Linked DNA regions of Homo sapiens. The protein of the gene in region 1 interacts with the protein of each later gene in a biochemical or structural test. Each region holds a gene or a part of one and is shown on either strand. Other genes may lie near its edges.

Region 1 (10,678 bases):
AGGGAGTGTCCAAAAATGCAGTAATCAAGATAAATAATACTTGAATGCAATGTTTTAAAATGAAAAGTTAATGCAAAAAACACATGGTGAGCAAAATGTCACGTTTTAAAAATAAATATGGGATCAGGCAGTCGCTCGCGCCTGCAATCCCAGCACTTTGGGAGGCCGAGGCGGGCGGATCACCTGAGGTCAGGAGTTTGAGAACAGCCTGGCCAACATGGTGAAACCCCGTCTCTACTAAAAATACAAAAATTAGCCAGGCGTGGTGGCGGGTGCCTGTAATCCCAGCTACTCAGGAGGCTGAGACGAGAGAATTGCTTGAACCTGGGAGGCGGAGGTTGCAATGAGCCGAGATAGCACCATTGTACTACAGCCTGGGCAACAAGAGTGAAACTCCGTCTCGAAAATAAATAAATAAATAATCGACCTTTGGACTTGCACAGCATAACCTCGCTGCTTCACCCTGATCCTGGCTGTGATGAAACACCAGCTTCTGGACTTTTCTGCAGGTCTCCACACTTTTCTTGGCTGTGGGTGCAGCATCTCCAGGGTTTGGCCAAAGGGGTGGTGTTCTCCATGTTCTCTGGCTTTCCAGGGGACAAACAGTGCCTTCTCATTCAGTCAATGGACATTTTTCAGGCTGGAATTCTCTGACCCACAGCCAAGGGAAGTAATCAAGGTGGCTAGGCAGGATGTCTCCTGGCCAACAGAACTAACAAGAGTTCAAATTCACATTACAAGGCAGCTGAAGCTCCTTTGGTGGCTGAACCTCCTTGATGCGGACTTACACCCCTACTGTATTCGTTACCTTTTCCACTCTACAAACTTTGGTCACTCATCCCTGCATCCATTCATCCCTCCTTCCACCCATCCATCCAACAATACAGCTGTTGGTCCATCTTGCCATGGACAGAGCCGTCTATCCAGCCATCCCTTCTTCTATTCATTCATCCACACATGCATCCAAACACATAGCCAGGCACCCAACCACTGAGCCAATCCCCTACCGACCTACCATATAAAATCAGCCTGTGGATGTGGAAGGAGTCCCACCTCTTACCAGCAGGCCTACTTAACTTCTCCAAGTCTCAATCTCTTCATCTGAAAATTGAGTATGTGTATGCTCATAAGGGCCTTCACAGGGTTGTTATGAGCAGTAAATAACAAAACCCATGTGAATGGTGGCTATTATATTACCATGGTAAGAAAATGAATGTGGCAAAAGGCCCAGCTTGTCTGCTACAATGTTGGCTCTAACAGGTGATCTGGAAAACCAGTCAAACCTGTAGTTAACAGTTGTGGGGGGTGGGGGAGGGGGGTGATAAAGTTGTGTTATCCTTTTTGTTATCCCCAGATTCAGCTTAAGGAAAAGAATAAATGGATGTGGGGCAGGTAACAATGACTAGAACATTCATGCAGGAGGCATTCTGCATGCAGGCAGTGACTGCAGATTCCAGGACCTGTGGTTAGCGGACTCCTATTGATGTTTCTGGGAACTCTAGACCTGGAAGTTCAGGTAGGTAGGCAAGCCTCAGGACTCATCGTCATCACTTGTTCCCATGGGGCAAATGCTTTAGTGGAGAACTCTGGACTCAGGTAGCCAGGGGTTCATAGCAGGGGTTCAAATCCCACTCTTACTTACTTGTGTGGCCTTAGACAATGTACGTAAGTGCCTCAATTACCCCATCCGTACAATGGGGATTAAGAAGTGAAGATTCTGCTGATACGGTGGCTCAGGCCTATAATCCTAGCACTTTGGGAGGCCGAGGCAGGTGGGTTGCCGGAGCTCAGGAGTTTGAGACCCGCCTGGGCACCATGGAGAAACCCTGTCTCCACTAAGATACAAAAAATTAGCTGGGCGTGGTGGTGGGCACCTGTAATCCCAGCCACTTAGGAGGCTGAAGCAGGAGAATTGCTTGAACTGGGGAGGCGGAGGTTGCAGTGAGCCGAGATCGTGCCATTGCACTCCAGCCTGGGCGACAGAGCGAGACTCTGTCTCCAAAAAAACTAAATAAAAATAAAATAAAAGGTGAAGAGTCACAAAGTTTATTTGTGTGAGGCACTTGGAGCAGGGTCCAACACATCCCCACAAGAGGTCATGACTCTGACCATGGATAGGCCTGTTCTTTGCCCTTGGCCTCTCAGCCCCCATATGCACCAGACCTTCAGACCAATGAGGCACCTGCCAGTTTGGGTGTTTCATCTGGTGTATTGGTTTCTTCCTATTGTTGTGTTCTAATTACCACAAACTTAGAGGCTTATAATAGCACAAATGTACTCTACGGAAGTTCTGTAAGTCAGAAGTCCATGTGGACTTGGTTGGTTCCCTGGAGGGTCTGGGGGAGAATCTGCTTCCAAGCTCATTCAGAGGGCTGGCAGAATGCAGTTCCATGCTGGTGAAGGGCTGAGGTCCTGGTTTCCTTGCTGGCTGTCACTACGGCCAGCTTCTATAGGTTGCCTGTGTACCTTGGCTTTGGCCCTCTTCAAAGCCAGCAGTGGCAGATAGAGTCCTTCTCATGATTCAGCGCTCTCTGACCCCACCTGCCTCATCCCCCCTCTGACTTCTCCAACCTCTCCTTCTGCCCCCTCTCTCCGACTCTTCTCCTATGCTCTTCTGCTTCTAAAGGCCCACATGATTCCACAGGGCCCCTCGGATAACCCAGGATAATCCTATTTAAAGTCAGCTGATTCAAACGTTGATTCCATCCGCAAAGTCCTCCATGGCAGTCGCTAGATTGTGCTTGAGTGAATAGGAAGCTTTCGAGTTCTGCCTACCAGCCCTGTCCAGCCAAGACTGTGCCAGCAGCTGCAGTCCTCAGCCTCATTTCTGTAGAGGTGTAGAGGACTGGAACCACGGAGAAGCCCTCCAGCCAGCTGGAGCCAGAGGGTCAGACAAACTCACCATGAAAAGTGTGTGCAGGTAGCAAAGGATAAAAAGCACACAACGGAGCATCAGAAAAGCCCATGCATGGGGGGAGTCTCTATTCTGGTGCCATGCTCAGGGCCAGGTATTTTACCTATAATTATATTTAAACTGCATGACCGTATCTAACTACCCTGGAAAGCAGGGATACTTGCTCCATTTTACAGATGAGGAAACTGAGGCTGGTGGGGGGGAGGCGGGGGGGAACCATTTGCTTAGGTCACACAGTGAATCTGTAGTAGGGCTAGAACCAAACATTGGTCTCCAATTAACCAGGTCAGTGCCCTCCACATCTCAGCACCCAGGGGCCCTGGCCTGCTGGAACGATCCACAAAGGAGGGTCACCAGGGACCTAGCGCAGGAGGCAGCTCTGGGGCCTGAGGTCTAGCATGCAGAGCTTTCAATTCTGACATCCTCCAAGTGGCTGGGATGGGCAGAGGGGTGAAGCATTCCAGGTACACATGAAGGGCAGGACATCTGCCTAGAAGGACACCTTTATCCCAAGGCCAGCGACTTCTGTTCCAAATAGTAACCGAGCAGGGTCTTTTCTGAGACATATGCCTCAAAGCACAGAGAGACTGGTCACACCCAGAGAGGGGCATCCAGACAGAGATGGAGTCACAACCTAAGGAAGATCTGCTTTATCTGAAAAAAGGTGCCTGCTGGAGCTCACCCTGGTTCCATGGAGATTCCATGTCCACATGCCACACTGGCCACAGGAGAGGAGAGAGACTGTGGGGGAGGCTCTTTAAATGCAGATTTCTGAGCCCTACCCAGACCCAGTAGGTCATATCCCAGGAAAGAAGTCCAGGAATCTGCTTCCCCAGGTGCCTGAGACACAGAGTCTGGGCTAGAACATCAGGGGATGAAACACCAGTCGGAGGGAGGCCACGAGAGAGCTCAGATCTGGCTCTACTCACAGGTTGGAAAGATGCATTTTTAAAAAGAGAGGGAAGGGCACAGAGGCTCACATCTCTAATCCTAGCACTCTGGGAGGCTGAGGCAGGAGGATCACTTGAGCCCAGGAGTTTGAGACCCCATCTCTACTAAAAATACAAAAAAACTAGCTGGGCGTGATGGTACGAGCCTGTGGTCCCAGCTACTCAAAAGGCTGATGTGGGAGGATCTCCTGAGCCTGGGAGGCCAAGGCTGCAGTGAACTGTGATGATGCCACTGAACTCCAACCTGGGTGGCAAGAGAGCCAGGCCCTGTCTCAAAATAAATAAATAAAAATTTAAAAATGAAGAGACAGAGAAAGAGCAAGCCCAGAGCAGAGAGCACTGCAGTAGGTCAAGGCTGGGTTCAGACACTCTCTGCGCACAGACTGGGAAAGTTACCATCTACTCTTGTGGCCTCAGTTTCCTCATCTGTAAAATGGGGGGTCAACAACATGCCACTTTGCAAGGTGATGATGTAAGTGAAGAACAGGGCATCACTGGGCATTTGAGGCTACGGCACAGGCTGGTCTGAATCACCCTCTCCTCACCCAAAGCAGTGACAGCACCGGCCTCCTCAGCCTGGAACGCACGTTCTTCTGTCTGTCTCACACCCAGACCCTTACATACCATCTTCTTTAGCTTTGCAAACTACAGAGAATGGCCCTACAGCTCTTAATGTAGCTTCCTCAGCAGAAAGACTAAAATGTCTGTTGAGGGGGCAAAACAATTCACAAGGAGGTCGTCTAGCTTCTTCAGTTGTAAGTCCACTCCAAGCAAAAGGGAAGCCAGGGAAATGTGGTTAACCAGGGCAGGGAGACGTGGGGAGTGTGGGGGAAAGTCTGAGGTGGAGACACACAGGGACATGGGGGGTATGAGGTGGGGACAGGCAGGGAGATGGGGGTGCAAGGTGGAGACACGCAGGGACATGAGGGGGTGTGAGGTGGGGACAGGCAGGAAGATGGGAGGTGCAAGGCGGGGACAGGCAGGGACATAGGGGTGTGAGGTGGGGAAATGCAGGAAGATGGGGGGATGTGAGGTGGGGACTGGCAGGGATATGGGGGTGTGAGGTGGGGACAGGCAGAGACATGGGGGTGTGAGGTGGGGACAGGCAGGGACATAGGGGTATGGTGGGGATAGGCAGGGAGATGGGGGGTGCGAGGTGGGGACAGGAAGGGACATAAGGCTGTGAGGTGGAGACAGGCAGGGACATGGGGGGTGTGAGGTGGGGACAGGCAGGGAGATGGGGGGTGCGAGGTGGGGACAAGCAGGGACATGGGGAGTGCGAGGTGGGGACAGGCAGGGACGTGGGGCGTGCGAGGTGGGGACAGGCAGGGACATAAGGGTGTGAGGTGGAGACAGGCAGGGACATGGGGAGTCTGAGGTGGGGACAGGCAGGGAGATGGGGGGTGTGAGTTGGGGACAGGCAGGGAGATGGGGGGGTGCGAGGTGGGGATAAGCAGGGACATGGGGGTGCGAGGTGGGGACAGGCAGGGACATGGGGGTGGGAGGTGGGGACAGGCAGGGACATAGGGGGTGGGAGGTGGGCACATTCAGGGAGATGGGGGTGTGAGGTGGAGACAGGCAGGGACATAGGGGGAGCGAGGTGGGGACAGGCAGGGAGATGGAGGGTGCAAGGTGAAGACAGGCAGGGACATGGTGTGAGGTGGGGACAGGAAGGGACATGAGGGGTGCGAGTTGGGGATAGGCAGGGAGATGGGGGGGTGCGAGGTGGGGACACGCAGGGAGATGGGGGACGTGGGGATGGCGACAGGCTGGGAGAGGGAGAGGCCAGGCTGAGACCTCCCCGCGCGGTGCCAGCCAGTCCAGGCAGATCCAGGACTCAGCCAGGCCTGATACCCAGATAAGCCCTTCCTCCCAGAGGAGATAAGGGAGCGACGCGGCCGGCCGACAGGTGAACTAGAGCTGGCGAGTTAGTCGGCGCCGCCCCCTCCCGCGAGCCCGGCCTCGGGGGAGTACCGCCCACCCCGCCCCGCGCTCGCTCCGCCCCGCGCTCGCTCCGCCCCTTCGCGCTCCCGCCGCTCCTCCACGCTCGTGCCGCTCCCCCCCCGCGCTCCCAGTTGACGCTCTGGGCCGCCACCTCCGCGGACCCTGAGCGCAAGAGCCAAGCCGCCAGCGCTGCGATGTGGGCCACGCTGCCGCTGCTCTGCGCCGGGGCCTGGCTCCTGGGAGTCCCCGTCTGCGGTGCCGCCGAACTGTGCGTGAACTCCTTAGGTACGCAGAGGGCGCGCCGCCCGAGAGGGTGCTAGCAGGCCCTAGAGTGGACGCTGGGAGAACTTGGCCAGGGGCGCACTGGGCTCCGGAGGAACGGGGCAGAGCTTTCCCCGGTGAGAGGCCAGGAACTCTGCGTGCTGGCACGGGGAGGGGTAAACTGCATTATAGGCGGGGGTTCTCGGAGGGTGGGCGGCTTGTAGGACCAGAGGAGCAGATGGGCTGAGTGTCCAGGGTCCCACCTAGCCAGGTGGCTCTCCAGCCTAGAATACCAAAGGAGCCCGCAGCTCCTTCCGCCTTCCTCAACTGGGGACACAGAGTGTCACACAGAGGACTCTGATCTGTCCCTGCCAGAGGTGAGCAAGGACGTCCCAGCCTTCTCTAGCAGCTTCCCCCGGGACTTGGCACACAGGGGATCCCCGTAGTGTCTTGGGAGTCCCATCTGTAGAGTAGGTTGGACGGGCTGTTTGGAACAGTGAATCCCTGTGCAACGGCACCAGGGAAAGCACTCAGACCAACAGCGCTTTTAACAGCACCCCAGGGCCCATGGCGTCAGGTGGAGCCCCAGGACTCCTCTTGTTGGCCAGATTGGCTGCGACTGGTCCAGCTTCGTGCTGCCCTTGCATCCTGTCTACTGCCCGGGCTCAGGCACCTCCCCTGGCTGAAGGCAAGGAGCCTGCTCTTCCCTACTGCCTCCCTCCTTTCCTACTGTCCCTGGTCCCAGCCTCAGCCCACAGGCTCTGAACTTAAAGACCACCTGCCCCCTTCACCGAGAAAAGTAGCCAAGAAACAACCCAAGGAGCCAAGAACCTAGGGAGGGGGGGTGCCCTGAGCTCTGGAGGAACGGGACAGGGCTTTCCCCCAGCTAGAGGCTCAGGGGATGGGACAGAGATCACTGAGGCTGAATCTGGGCCAGAGGGTTGCCTCATTCCTTCCCACCTATTTATTTAAAAAGCTCCCCAGCCTTGCAAACCTCAGTGGGCGCCCAGCTCCAGGTCAGTTCCCGCCTAAGGAAAACCTAGCTGCCGCAAGCGAGGGCTGCCTGGAGAAGGCTGGCGCTGAGAGGCTGTCTGAATTCCAGAGCAGGGCTTGGCAAACTTTTTCTGTGAAAGACCAGACGGTAAATAACTTAGGCTTTATGGTGGTCTCTGTAGCAACTACTAACTCTGCCATGGTAGTGTGATAGCAACCATAGATTGTATGTAAGTGAGTCAGTGTAACTGGGTTCTAATAAATGATTTTTATGGCCACTGAAATTTCAGTTTCAAGGGATTTTTGGGTGCTACGAAATATGTTTCTTCTAACCATTTAAAATTGTAAGAAACCGTTTGTAGCCCAGGAGCTGTACTAAAACAGGAGTCAGGGACCGGCTGCGGTGGCTCACACCTGTAATCTCAGCAATTTGGGAGACCGAGGCAGTCGGATCACTTTAGGTCAGGAGTTCGAGAGCAGCCTGGCCAACATGGTGAAACCCTGTCTCTACTAAAAATACAAAAATTAGCTGGGTGTGGTAGCCAGGTGCCTGTAATCCCAGGTACTCAGGAGGCTGGGGCAGGAGAATCGCTTGAAACTGAGAGGTGGCGATCACTCCAGCCTGGGTGACAGAGTAAGACTCCATCTAAAACAAACAAACAAACAAACAGGGGAATACTGTACTTTCCTGAAACCTGCTGTAAATCCAGGCAAGGTATTATGGCACTTTTAAAGTCCTGACTAGATTGGAATGGATCTATTTTAGGGTAAGGCACGGTTCACCAGCAGATTATTCTGGCCCCAGAATAATCTCTCCAGAGGCAAACTGGTAGTCAATTGTCCTAAACTCAAACCCTGCCTCCAACTCTTGTCCTGAGTTGAGGTCTGTCTTCCTCTAAAGCCCTCAGCTGCAGCAGGGCCCTTAATCAAGATCTGGAATCCCCTGAAACCCTAAAGGGAGCCATGTTGAGGAAATGTGCATTTTCCCCAGGGAAAACGGCCATAGATTGGTCTCTGGAACAGGTTCGAGACCCAAAAACGGAGATCTAAATGCTGTGTGGTAGTGATCTTCACACTGGAGGTATGGATCCTTGGGGAAACAGGAAGATATTTCAAGTGATGCCGGCAGAGAGTGTTCTGGAAATCCATTTACAGACCTTTTATTTCCAAGTGTCCTCTTTGCTAAAACTGGGAGAGAGCCCCTGAAGGCAAGGGGGAACCTCTTTCCTCTCATTCAATCTGAACCTGAACCCATGGGTATAAAAACAATAGGGACAGCAAACAAAAAGACAAAACGGTAATAAATCGTTCATATCTGGCATTCTCAATTCCTCAAGGAAACTGAATTGAAGAGGAGAGGACTTCATGGGGATATCAACTGATGAGGTCTTAAAAATAATGTTGAGTGAGGCCAGGCGTGGGGGCTCACGCCTGTGATCCCAGCACTTTGGTAGGCCAAGGTGGGTGGATCACCTGAGGTCAGAAGTTTCAGACCAGATTGGCTAACATGGTGAAACCCCATCTCTACTAAAAATATAAAAATTAGCCGGGCGTGGTGGTGGGCACCTGTAATCCCAGCTACTTGGGAGGCTGAGATAGAATTGCTTGAACCAGGGAGGTGGAGGTTGCAGTGAGCTGATATCGTGCCACTGCCCTCCAGCCTGGGCAACAGAGCCAGCCTCCTTCTCAAAAAAAAAAAAAAAAAAGAAGGAAAGAAAGGGAGGGAGGGAGGGCTGAGTGATAGAGCACCATGGGATTGGATGCACAGAAAGGAGTGCGAAGAATTAAGTGGCATTGCTCTTAAAAACTGCCTCCATTCCCAGCTGCTTATTTGAGCAGGGTTTCCCAGCCCTTTGACCTATAAGAAACAAAAATAAGACCAGAATTAATGCTGAACCTTTTCTCAACCAAACAATATTCACTCATGAAAATATAAATCCATTGCGGGGGATGGGCAGTAGAGTACTGTTTATCACATTAAGAGATGCATTTCTGATACAATTTTACTTTTGATGTTTAACAATTACTTTTCATAATGTATAATACATTTGAAATGTTTTAATCAGTTGGGACACTAATAATAATTATGATTACTCAATCCAGAATAAATTTTTTTTTTTTTTTTTGAGACGGAGTCTCATTCTGTCGCCCAGGCTGGAGTGCAGTGGCGTGATCTCGGCTCACTGCAAGCCCCGCCTCCCGGGTTCACGCCATTCTCCTGCCTCAGCCTCCTGAGTAGCTGGGACTGCAGGCGCCCGCCACCACGCCCGGCTAATTTGTTTTTTGTATTTTTAGTAGAGTTGGGGTTTCACCGTGTTAGCCAGGATGGTCTCGATCTTCTGAACTCGTGATCCGCCCGTCTCAGCCTCTCAAAGTGCTGGGATTACAGGCATGAGCCACCGCGCCCAGCTCCAGAATAAATTTTTATAATATTCACAGATGTATGGGTCACAGGTAGTAAAAACATTTAATTTTTTTTTTTTTTTTTTTTTTTTTTTTAGACAGAGTCTCGCTTTGTCGCCCAGGCTGGAGTGCAGTGGCACGATCTTGGCTACTGCAACCTCTGCCTCCCAGGTTCAAGCAATTCTTCTGCCTCAGCCTCCCAAGTAGCTGGGACTACAGGTGCATGCCACCACGTCTGGCTTATTTTTGTATTTTTAGTAGAGATGAGGTTTCACCATGTTGGCCAGGCTGGTCTCAAACTCCTGACCTCATGATCCACCTGCCTCAGCCTCCCAAAGTGCTGGGATTACAGGCATGAGCCACGGCGCCCAGCCAAAATAAATAATTTAAATTTAAACTTTTTGTTGTTGTTGCAGAAAAGAATGTGAAGGTGATCAAGCATAAAAATGTATGTTCCCTTAGGATAAAATTCTGCCAGGTGGGGATGGAGATAGGTGTTCAACAAGAAAAAGAAACTCTGTATAATATCTGACTCTTTTTTGTTTTGTTTTCTTTATTTGAGATGGAGTTTCGCTCTTGTCACCCAGGCTGGGGTGCAGTGGCACAATCTCGGCTCACAGCAGCCTCCGCCTCTCAGGTTCAAGCGATCCTCCTGCCTCAGCCTCCTGAGTAGCTGGGATTACAGGCGCCTGCCACCATGCCCAGCTAATTTTTGTATTTTTAGTGGAGCTGGGGTTTTGCCATGTTGGCCAAGTTGGTCATGAGCTCCTGACCTCAGGTGATCTGCCCACCTTGGCCTCCCAAAGTGCTGGGATTACAGGCGTGAGCCACCACACCCCGCCTAAATACCTGACTCTTATAGAAAAGTTTGTTCATGTTACTGATGGTGGATATCAAATCATCATGGTATTTAGATTCCACTGGCTAGCTTTAAAAGAATGATATAACAATCTTATTTTTAGAGATTTTTTTTTTTTTTTTGAGACAAGGTCTCACTCCTGTCACCCAGGCAGGAATGCAGTGGCGCTATCATAGCTCATTGCAGCCTCAACCTCCCAGGCTCAAGTGATTCTCCCGTCTAATTTTTTTTATTTTTTTGTAGAGACGAGGTCTCACTTTGTTGCCCAGACTGGTCCCAAACTCCTAGGCTCAAGGGATTCGCCTGTGTCAGCCTCCCAAAGTACTGAGATTATAGGCTTGGGCCACACTGCCA
Region 2 (10,900 bases), on another chromosome or scaffold:
TTTGTTTTAGACGGAGTTTCACTCCTGTTGCCCAGGCTGGAGTGCAGTGGCACAATCTCGGCTCGCTGCAACCTCAGCATCCCAGGTTCAAGTGATTCTCCTGCCTCAGCCTCCCAGATAGCTGGGATTACAGGTGCCAGACACCAAGCTCAGCTAATTTTTTTGCATTTTTAATAGAGACGGGGTTCCATCATGTTGGCCAGGCTGGTCTCGAACTCCTGACCTAACGTGATCCACCTGCTTTGGCCTCCCAAACTGCTGGGATTGTAGGTGTGAGCCATCACGCCCAGCCGACAAGCAGGTTTTTAAAGACAAAAGGGGGACAAGGAGCAGGCTGATACAAAATTGTCTATCAGGAATTCTCATTGGTTTACAGAAATAATATTGATTAGTGATTGGCTATACATTGTATGGGATTACGGTGTCCTGTGTGCAGCATCCTTAGGTTCACTTACAGCTACTTGTGGTGAGAGGAAGCAGTCTCCAGAGATGGTGACACAGCTCTAGGAGAAACAGCATGTGATTACTGTCTCATTTTAATTTCTCTCTGGGCCTGATAACTTAAAAGGGTTCGCTTTCAGCCGGGCCTGGTGGCTCACTCCTGTAATCCCAGCACTTTGGGAGGCCAAGGCAGGCAGATCCCGAGGTCAGGAGATCGAGACCATTCTGGCCAACATGGTGAAACCCTGTCTCTACTAAAAATACAAAAAAAATTAGCCGGGCATGGTGGCGGGTGCCTGTAGTCTCAGCTACTTGGGAGGCTGAAGCAGAAGAATGGTGTCAACCCAGGAGGAGGAGCTTGCAGTGAGCCAAGATCGCACCACTGCACTCCAGCCTGGTGACAAGAGCGAGACTCCATCTCAAAAAAAAAAAGGGTTCATTTTCCTCAGATAAGAAATATTCATAATTTTTTTCTTTCTCATTCTCTAAGTGGGGAGACAAGGTATTTGGTCTTGTCCCCTTGCCTTCAGTAAATGAAAAACTCTGGCATCAAAGAATGGGAGGTAAAAGTCAGCATGGTTGGGCGTGATGGCTCATGCCTGTAATCCCAGCACTTTGGGAGGCCAAGGTGGGACCGCCCAACAGGTTCTTCCTGCCTGCTGTACAAAGGCCACGGCACTGAAGAAAAGAAAGTTAATTGTCAGGCACGGTGGCTCACACCTATAATCCCAGCACTTTGGGAAGCCAAGGGGGGTGAATCACCTGAGGTCAGGAGTTTTGAGACCAGCCTGGCCAACATGGTGAAACCTCGTCTCTACTAAAAATACAAAAATTAGCCAGGCATGGGGATGCATGCCTATAATCACACTTACTTGGGAGGCTGAGGCAGGAGAATCGCTTGAACCCGGGAGGCAGAGGTTGCAGTGAGCCAAGATTGCACCACTGCACTCCAGCCTGGGCGACAGAGGGAGACTCTGTCTCAAAAAAAAAAAAAGTGAATTGATGTGAGGCTGGCCTGGCCATGCCACAAGGGAGATGGAGTAATTATTCAAATCAACCTCATTGCAGGCCTGTGGGTTAGGGTTTTTCAAAAGTGGTTTGGGGGAAGGGGTTGGTGTGGCTGGGCAATGGGTGCTTGCTGCTGACCGAGTGGGTCGGAGATGACATCATGGGAAGATGTCCTTTTGCACTGAGTTGCTTCTGGGAGGGGCCACAGGAGCCATGGTCAGTGGGTCCAGGTAGAGCCATGGGTGTCAGACATGCCCAAAACCTGCAAAAGTATCTCAAAAGGCCAGTCTACAATAGCGACATTAACTGCAGGACTAACTGGGGAGGTTGCTGTCCTGTGACCTCCAGAATAATGGCTGGCAATTGTTTGTCTACACCTTAGCTGAACCCAGGCTCCTCTCCTTCTCCTAGCCTAGTCTCTCATGAGCTTTGCAAAGGTGGTTGAGTTTTGGGGAAGGGCCAGTATCATCTAAACTGTAAACTAAATGTCTGCCAAAGTTAGCTCAGCCTAAACCCAGGAATAATCAAGGCAGCTTAAAAGCTAAAGGCCAGAGCCGGGTCAGCTGGTTCAGATCTCTCCCACTGCCACCATTTTCTCATGGATACAATTTTTGCAAAGGTGGTTTCAGAGGTGGGAGGATCACTTGGGCCCAGGATTTCAAGATTAGCCTGGGCAACATAGTGAGACTTCCAGCTCTACAAAAAATGAAAAAAATTAGCCAGGCATGGTGGTGCACACCTGTGGCCCCAGCTACTCAGGAGGCTGAGGTGGGAAGATTGCTTGAGCCTGGGAGGTCAGGCTGCAGTGAGCTGTGATCGTGCCACCGAACTCCAGTGTGGGCAACAGAATCAGACCATGTCTCAAAAAAATAAATAAATAAAATAAAAAATTCCAGGGCTTTTGATTGGAAAAGTAATACAAATTCTAGGTTGGCTTTGATTAGCATACCAATAATAACAATACTGACAACTCACCCTGGAGCTCAGACACTGTCCCAAGCTTTTTGTACTTAATTACTAATTCACTTAGTCCTTTAAAAAAAAATTTGAGATTGGTTATTAGCATTATCCCCACAGAGAGAGGCACAGAGAGTTTCAGCAATTAGTCCTTCACCACACAGCAGGTGCGAAGAAGGGCTGGGTCCACACTCAGGCAGCTGGGCTCCAGCACCTGCCCTCCAAGATGGTTTGAAAACATCTGCTTGCACCCACACCTGCAGCACGAAGGCAGCTTTGACATTGCGAGACAATGAACACACAAACAGAAAACAGCCAGACCAAATATGGGAAGAGAACTCTGAGCCACAGCGACTGTCCAGAGGCCAAACCTCAACTTTCACGGCTAGCCAGAAGCTTTCTGCCCAGGTTCTGTACATTTATTATATATTATATATTATATTTATTATATATTTATTATAACTAAGCATTCAGCAGAAATAGAGTTACAGGCCGGGTGTGGTGGCTCATGCCTGTAATCCCAACACTTTGGGAGGCCGAGGCAGGTGGATCACCTGAGGTCAGGAGTTCAAGACCAGCCTGGCTAACATGGTGAAACCCCGTCTCTATACAAAAATTAGCTGGGCTTGGTGGCACGCACCTGTAATCCCAGCTAATCGGGAGGCTGAGGCAGGAGAATCGCTTGAACCCGGGAGGCAGTGGTTGCAGCAGTGAGCCAAGATCATGGCACTGCACTCCATCCAGTCTGGATGACAGAGCGAGACTCTGAAGAAAGAAAGAGAGAAAGAGACAGAGAGAGAGAAAAAGAGAGAGAGAGAGGGAGGGAGGGAGGGGGGAGGGAGGAAGAGAAGGATAACTCAGCATTTGTCAGGCTACACTTTAACCCACTTCCTTCTAACTGAAAGTCACGTAGCGCTAGTGACTATCTGCACCCCTACTGTTCCTATGGACGGAATCTCTGACTTCAGAATCATGAGGCTTTTGTTTAAGAATTCCTTAAGACGTTTCAGATCCTTAATTCCAGGCCAACCAGTTTGAAGAGCCCCACAGAGGAAGTGAACCAGCATGAGAATACAGCATCTTCAACCCCACCCCATGACTCCACCCTGCTTCACCCTGCACTTCTCCACCGGTCAGCAGCCCCCGCCCTCAGCCCACTCCAAACCCCTGAAAGTTCCCAGCCCCAAACTCCTCAGGGAGATGGATTTGAGGTCTCCTCCCAGTTACAACCTTGCGGTTCAAACTGTCTGCTGCAAACCCTGGGTGGCAGTGTGCTGACTTCCTGCACCCTAGGCAACGGACCTGTCACGGTCACACTCCTAGTGAGCCCCTCTTCCGTCTCCCCAGGCCACAGCCTCCCTCAGGTGCACCTGAGCCTCCCCTTCCCATTCCAGGCTTTTCCCCGGCTCTGCCCCCGCCTGCTGAGGAATCTCGGTCAACACAAGAGAGGACGGCGACTCCCTTGTACAGCAAGTCCTGAATAAATCGTCTTTTGTTCTCATTTGCGTGGGCTTTATTTCCACAGCTGTTATCCTCCTATTTGTAAAACGGAGGCACCTGGGACCAGCTCCAGCAAGGAGAGTGAGGATCCGACTCCAGGAAGCACCTCAGGAACAAAGGCCTCAAGGCCAACACCTTCCACGGCACAAGCCCAACAGAGCTGCAGGAACCGTACAAGCAGCGGGAACATCCCTTTCTCTTCTTGACTATGTTTTCCCCTGATGCTTTGCTTTCCACATAGAAGAGTTTTCCATTTTCGTGGGGTCAACTCTGCCTTCACTCATTCAACAATGATGGGGGGCTCTGCCCCGCTCCCCCCAGGCTTCAACCACACCTGACTGCCCACCCCTTTGGGCCCTTCCCTGAAGTGACAGACCAGGCTGTGCCCTGGCAGGTAAGAGAAAGGACCCCACAACCCATTCATGGGCCGCTCCAGCTGGGGCCTTGCATGCAGGAGCGGACCAGTCCCCCTGAGGGACAGCCCTTGGGTGGGGGCTCTGGGTCATTTTGAGGAGTCAATCACACCAACAGGTGCCTAGCACAGGCCCCACCCCCACCCCAAATAAGGCAAGCGACCCTTCCCTTCCGCAGGTGGTCCAGTCTAACAGAAACCCTAAACCAAAGGGACTGTGTGGTGGCTCAAGCCTGTCATCCCAGCACTTTGGGGGATGGATCGATTTTAGCCTAGGAGTTCAAGACCAGCCTGGGCAATATAGTGAGACTCCATCTCTACAAAAACACTTTTTAAAAAAATTAGGGGTGCAGTGGTTTATGCCAATAATCCCAGCACTTTGGGAGGCCGAGGTGGACAGATCGCTCAGAAGTTCCAGACCAGCCTGGGTAACATGGTGAAACTCTCTGTCTCTATATATGTGTGTGGTAGGGTGGGCCTGTGGTCCCAGCTACTATAGCAGCTGAGGTGGGAAGATCGCTTGAGCCCAGGAGGTCCAGGCTGCAATGAGTTGTGATCAGGCCACTGCACCCCAGCCTGGCCAACAGAGCAAGACTCTGTCAAAAAAAAAAAAAAGAAAGAAAGAAAAGAGGTCAGGTACGGTGGCTCACGCCTGTAATTCCAGCACTTTGGGAGCCCGAGGCAGGTGGATCACGAGGTCAGGAGTTCGAGACCAGCCTGGCCAATATGGTGAAACCCCGTCTCTACTAAAAACACAAAAATTAGCTGCGCATGAAGGCGCGCGCCTGTAGTCCCAGCTACTCGGGAGGCCGAGGCAGGAGAATGGTGTGAACCCCGGAGGCGGAGCTTGCAGTGAGCCGAGATTGCGCCACTGCACTCCAGCCTAGGCGACAGATCCAGACTCCGTCTCAAAAAAAAAAAAAAAAAGGCCGGGCGCAGTGGCTCACACCTGTAATCCCAGCACTTTGGGAGGCCAAGGCGGGTGGATCACAAGGTCAGGAGATCGAGACCATCCTGGCTAACACAGTGAAACCCCGTCTCTACTAAAAATACAAAAATTAGCCAGGTGTGGTGGCGGGCGCCTGTAGTCCCAGCTACTCGGGAGGCTGAGGCAGGAGAATGGCGTGAACCCGGGAGGCGGAGCCTGCAGTAAGCCGAGATCGCGCCACTGCACTCCAGCCTGGGAGACAGAGCGAGACTCCGTCTCAAAAAAAAAAAAAAAAAAAAAAAAAGAAAAGAAAAGGAAAGAAAGAAAAGAAATCCTAAAACGCAAATTCCACCAGAGAACCCTGCCTTCTTCTCATCCCTCTGATCTACCCCCTGCCCCCACCCAGCCTGGAGCGCGTGGGCGCCGTCTCCCCCTCCCTGGGCCCCTCTGTCCACCCCCTTCAGCCTTCAGTGTTCTCGGTCACAAGCGGTGATGTCCACTGCAGCCCGCACACCTGCTCCCGCGGGGCCGGGACCCCTGACCCCTGACCCCTGCAGCGCTGCGCCCCGCCCTCCCTCGTGCGCGGCCCGGACCCCGCCACCCTGCAGGATTGCGCCTACTCCGACTGCCCCTTCCCTATCGTCCCACCCTGCGCGCCCAACCCACCGGCGACACCCGGCCGCGCCCCCGCCCCGGTCCGTGTGACTCGGCGCCCGGAAAGACGATACCAGCCCCGGGAGGGGGGCGCTCCCTCCCGACACCAGCGCTGGGCGCGGAGACCCAGCCTGCGGCGAGTGGTGGCCAGGTTCCCCGCCCCGCGCCCCGCCCCGCGCCCCGCCCCGCGCGTCCCTTCTTGCGGGGCCACCGCGACCCCGCAGGGGACTCCGAAGCCAAAGTGCCTCCTCCCCGCCCCTTGGTTCCGCCCGCGCGTCACGTGACCCCAGCGCCTACTTGGGCTGAGGAGCCGCCGCGTCCCCTCGCCGAGTCCCCTCGCCAGATTCCCTCCGTCGCCGCCAAGATGATGTGCGGGGCGCCCTCCGCCACGCAGCCGGCCACCGCCGAGACCCAGCACATCGCCGACCAGGTGGGTGGGCCGCGGGGACGGGGCCGGCCCGGAGTCCTGCCTTAGCCTCAGGGCGCGGCCGCGGCTCCTGGAGCGAAAGAAGCCGCTTTGGCCCCGCTGCGCACCCCTGGGCTGGCCCGGGCTGTGGCCGTGAGAGGCCTCCCTCCGCTCGGGCGCTGCGCGCGAGTGAGCAGCGGGGGGCCGCGCCTGGGGCGCCGCTGGGGAGACATTGGGCTCCGCTGAATACAGCAAGGGCGAGTGGGAATTGATAGCCCGGAGCAGGGTGCGGTCCCTGCATGGACAGTCTCTGAGAGGAAACCCCAGGGATGAGGCGCTTCTGGTTTCAGGCAGGCAGGGTGATCGGGCGTCGCCGGCGATGGCGCAGGTGAGCAGCCGGCTCCGATCTCCACGGTGATCCGATAGCAAGCGGGTGGGAAGGGTCTGGCTAAACTGACTTAGCCAGGCTTCTTGCTAAAAGTGGATTTTACAAGGAAGTGCGCAGGTGGCCTAGGCGCTTCAGGAGCCCGACTACAGTTTGGCCAAGCAAGAATCTTTGTCAATATCCTCATCTAGTTCGGGAAAAAAATCATGAGAGAGAGTGCAAGAGGTCCCCAGTGATAAGGCACATGGGTTAAAAACTTAAGTGTATCTGCATAAAAGGTCCACAGGTTTCTTTACATGCTTCCGATTCTAGCACTGTTTCAAACTGTAAGTCTAAATAAAAAGTTAAAACACAGAAAAACAAGATAAAAACCGGGCTGGGTTGCAGATGGCAACCTTCCCTGTGTCTCGGTTTCCTCGTCTGTAAAATGGACGTCCTGTTGCTCTGCGCCTGCCAGAAGATTCTGGAGGGGCTGAAATGAGCAGGTCATCTGTGCAAGAAGCCCCCTCCGGTGGAGCACAGGCCAGGCCCGCCTCGCTGTCATGGTTGGTGACCGACGGGATGCCCCAAGCAAGAACAGGTCCAGGCGATGCTGAGGCCTGTGTTTTTTTTTTTTGTTTTTGAGACTCAGTCTCACTCTTGCCCAGGGTGGAGTGCAGTGGCACAATCTCGGCCCACTGCAACCTCCGCTTCCCAGGTTCAAGGGATTCTCCTGCCTTAGCCTCCCGAGTAGCTGGGATTGCAGGTGCTCGCCACCACGCCCAGCTAATTTTTGTATTTTTAGTAGAAACGGGGTTTTGCCATTTGGCTAGGCTGGTCTCAAACTCCTGACCTCAAGTGATCCGCCCACCTCAGCCTCCCAAAGTTCTGGGATTACATCCTTGAGCCACCGTACCCAGCTGGAACTGTTTTTTTCTACTTTATTATTAGGCTGACAGTTTAAATGTCCCTTCAGTTGTAAGAGACAATTGTGTGAAGAGCCAGTGTCAGAATCGTGTGTGTGCTCACATGCGTGCAAGTTACTCTAGCAGGAGGGAATCCAAGAAGCCACTGAGACATCCTCATTCTGTCCCTTCTGTCTAGGTGAGGTCCCAGCTTGAAGAGAAAGAAAACAAGAAGTTCCCTGTGTTTAAGGCCGTGTCATTCAAGAGCCAGGTGGTCGCGGGGACAAACTACTTCATCAAGGTAGAGTGTGGGCCTCAGGAGGGCCTGCCCCGAACGGGTGCTGGTAGGAAACCGCCTGTGCAGGCCCGGGCTGTGTGGTCTTAGGTGCTGGGGCGCCCTGTGGCTGCCCCCTGAGATAAGCATCCTACTGTGTGTGTCCATCGGCCTTTCAGGAGGACTAGGGCTTCTGGGGAGCTAAGAACCCCAAGGAAACAAGTGTGGGATGTGAGGCATCCCCTGCACATGCAGGAGAAGACAAGATTGTCTTCAGCTGGCTGCTAATGACCTGGAGGGGCGCAGCAAGGTGACTTGGGATCAGAGGCTTCGCTCACTCCGCTCTCTTCCCAGGTGCACGTCGGCGACGAGGACTTCGTACACCTGCGAGTGTTCCAATCTCTCCCTCATGAAAACAAGCCCTTGACCTTATCTAACTACCAGACCAACAAAGCCAAGCATGATGAGCTGACCTATTTCTGATCCTGACTTTGGACAAGGCCCTTCAGCCAGAAGACTGACAAAGTCATCCTCCGTCTACCAGAGCGTGCACTTGTGATCCTAAAATAAGCTTCATCTCCGGGCTGTGCCCCTTGGGGTGGAAGGGGCAGGATTCTGCAGCTGCTTTTGCATTTCTCTTCCTAAATTTCATTGTGTTGATTTCTTTCCTTCCCAATAGGTGATCTTAATTACTTTCAGAATATTTTCAAAATAGATATATTTTTAAAATCCTTACAGATTGCCTCCTTTGTTTTAGACTTTTTTCTTCGTCTGAACCACCCCGGGCAGGTCCTTCCCCTCGGGGGCATGGAGGGCGGAGAGACTGCCTGGCTCACACAGCAAGCAGGTGGTGGACCCAGGATTCACACCTGCCCACTCCGGCCCGCGTTCCTAACCACCACTCTTTACATGTTGGTGCTTTGACTCTTAGGTCCTGGCCCCAAGCTTCAGTTTCTCCCATAAAATAAAAGAGTGTGAGTAAATCCAATTCCAGAGCATAACTGGCTCCAGATCTCAGATACATTCACGCACTTTATGCTCTGGTACGGAGAGGCAGCCACACAGTGTCGTGCACGTGCAGAATAGCCTGCAGCCTCACTGAGTGCCCTGTGGTGCGGGAGGCTTCCCATGGAGCCACGTGGGCTTCTAAAGGGAGGTATCTTAGGAGAGCGTGGCTGTTTTTAAAAACACCTTCTAGTTTTCAACAGGGATTACTTCCCATTCATGGAATTGGTCCGGTGCCTTCCCAACTGTGATTCTATGTTAAATAGGACAGAAGAGGGAGCATCATACATGATAAGAGCTAAGACTGGGGGTGAAAGTCTCTGTGCACCGGGGTCATGATGTGAACGTGTTCCTGAGGGTGTCCTGAGCTGCGCTTTGCCTCCGAGGCGTCCGGCAGCGTATGCCAGAACTGCAGCTGCAGGGTTCAGGCTGTCCAGATCGTGGGGGATCTGTGAAGACTAAGGAGGGATCTACCAGTGAGTCCACAGAGCTTTGAAAGTGATGTTAGGAAATTCTGAATCAGGCCGGGCGCGGTGGCTCACACCTAGAATCCCAACACTTTGGGAGGCCAAGGTGGGTGGATCACTCTGAGGTCAGGAGTTCTAGGCCAGCCTGACCCACATGGTGAAACCCTGTCTCTACTAATAATAAAAAAATTAGCTGGGCGTTGTGGCAGGCGCCTGTAATCCCAGCTACTTGGGAGGCTGAGACGGGAGGATCACTTGGACTCGGGAGGTGGTGGGTGCAGTGAGCCGAGATCGTACCTCTGCACTCCAGCCTGGGTGGGTGACAGAGTGAGATCCTATCTCAAAAAAAAACCAAAAAGAAAACTGAATCATGGACTGTGTGTATTCTACACTCTTAACATGAACTCTGAGACTAAGCTTTTATAACATGCAAAACAGAATCAAGCAGTTTTGCATTGAAAGGAAAACCCGTTGTATTTCCCACTTGAGAATTTCCAGCGGAAGGCAGGTGGGGGAGGGGCTGTTTAGGGGACCACGCAGCGGGAGAGCCATCCCCAACAGGAAGGGAGCGGTTGTCTGCAGGAGCAGTGACCAGGAACTCCTATGGGGCACCTGGGTTGGGGGAAGCTGGATTTAGGGTTAGAAGCTTGTGTGTAAACAGGAAATATCAGTGTAAAACAGAAAATAAAATATGTAATTAATGCTGTGGTCTGGTTTAAATACAAGTTGACAAAGGGATCAAAATTACAGGCTCACGCCTGTAATCCCAACACTTTGGGAGGCTGAGGTGGGTGGATCACTTGAGGTCAGGAGTTCCGGGACCAGCCTGACCAACATGGTGAAACCCCATCCCTACTGAAAAAAATAAAATAAAATACAAAAAACTAGCCAGGCAGGTGCCTGTAATCCCAGCTACTCAGGAGGCTGAGGCAAGAGAATAGCTTGAACCCAGGAGGCAGAGGAGGTTGCAGTGAGCCGAGATTGCACCACTACACTCCAGCCTGGGCAACAGAGTAAGACTCCGTTTCTCTCTCTCTCTCTATATATATATATAATTTATATGAAGTTGTCAATTTCATCCACACGCTGTCTGCTTCCTTAGGAGCATCAACAGCAGCAGCTTGGAAATCTGATGAATTTCACTACCCGCTGACAAAAGTCCCTTGTTACCGAACCCCCCGCTGGTTTAACCGAACCCCCCGCTGGTTTAACCCTGCCCTCTGAGAGTGCATTAGGAGCTCTGATATGGTGTGGCTGTGTCTCCACCCAAATTTCATCTTGAATTATAGCTCCCATAATCCCGTGTCATGGGAGGGACCTGGTGGGAGGTCATTGAATCATGGAGGTGGTTACCCTCATGCTGTTCTCGTGATAGTGAGTGAATCCTCATGAGATCTGATGGTTTCATAAGGGGCTTTCCCCGCTTTTGCTGGCACGTCTCCTTCCTGCCACCATGTGAAGAAGGATGTGTTTCCTTCCCCTTCTGCCATGATTGTGTTTCCTGAGGCCTCCCTAGCCATGCTGAACTGTGAGTCAATTAAACCTCTTTCCTTTATAAATTATCCAGTCATGGATATGT

The links.
Region 2: the proteins of CTSH (region 1) and CSTB form a complex in vitro, tested with the Homo sapiens proteins (one study listed by BioGRID).

What each region holds. Positions count from the first base shown.
Region 1 is NC_000015.10:78,940,306-78,950,983, reverse strand, and holds the start of CTSH (pro-cathepsin H isoform a preproprotein), read left to right. Parts: upstream 1-5,937; 5' UTR 5,938-6,002; coding exon 6,003-6,093; exon of another isoform or gene 6,094-6,206; intron 6,207-10,678. UniProt on the Homo sapiens protein: Important for the overall degradation of proteins in lysosomes.
Region 2 is NC_000021.9:43,771,634-43,782,533, reverse strand, and holds CSTB (cystatin-B), read left to right. Parts: upstream 1-6,225; 5' UTR 6,226-6,264; coding exon 6,265-6,330; intron 6,331-7,774; coding exon 7,775-7,876; intron 7,877-8,203; coding exon 8,204-8,332; 3' UTR 8,333-8,584; downstream 8,585-10,900. UniProt on the Homo sapiens protein: This is an intracellular thiol proteinase inhibitor. Tightly binding reversible inhibitor of cathepsins L, H and B.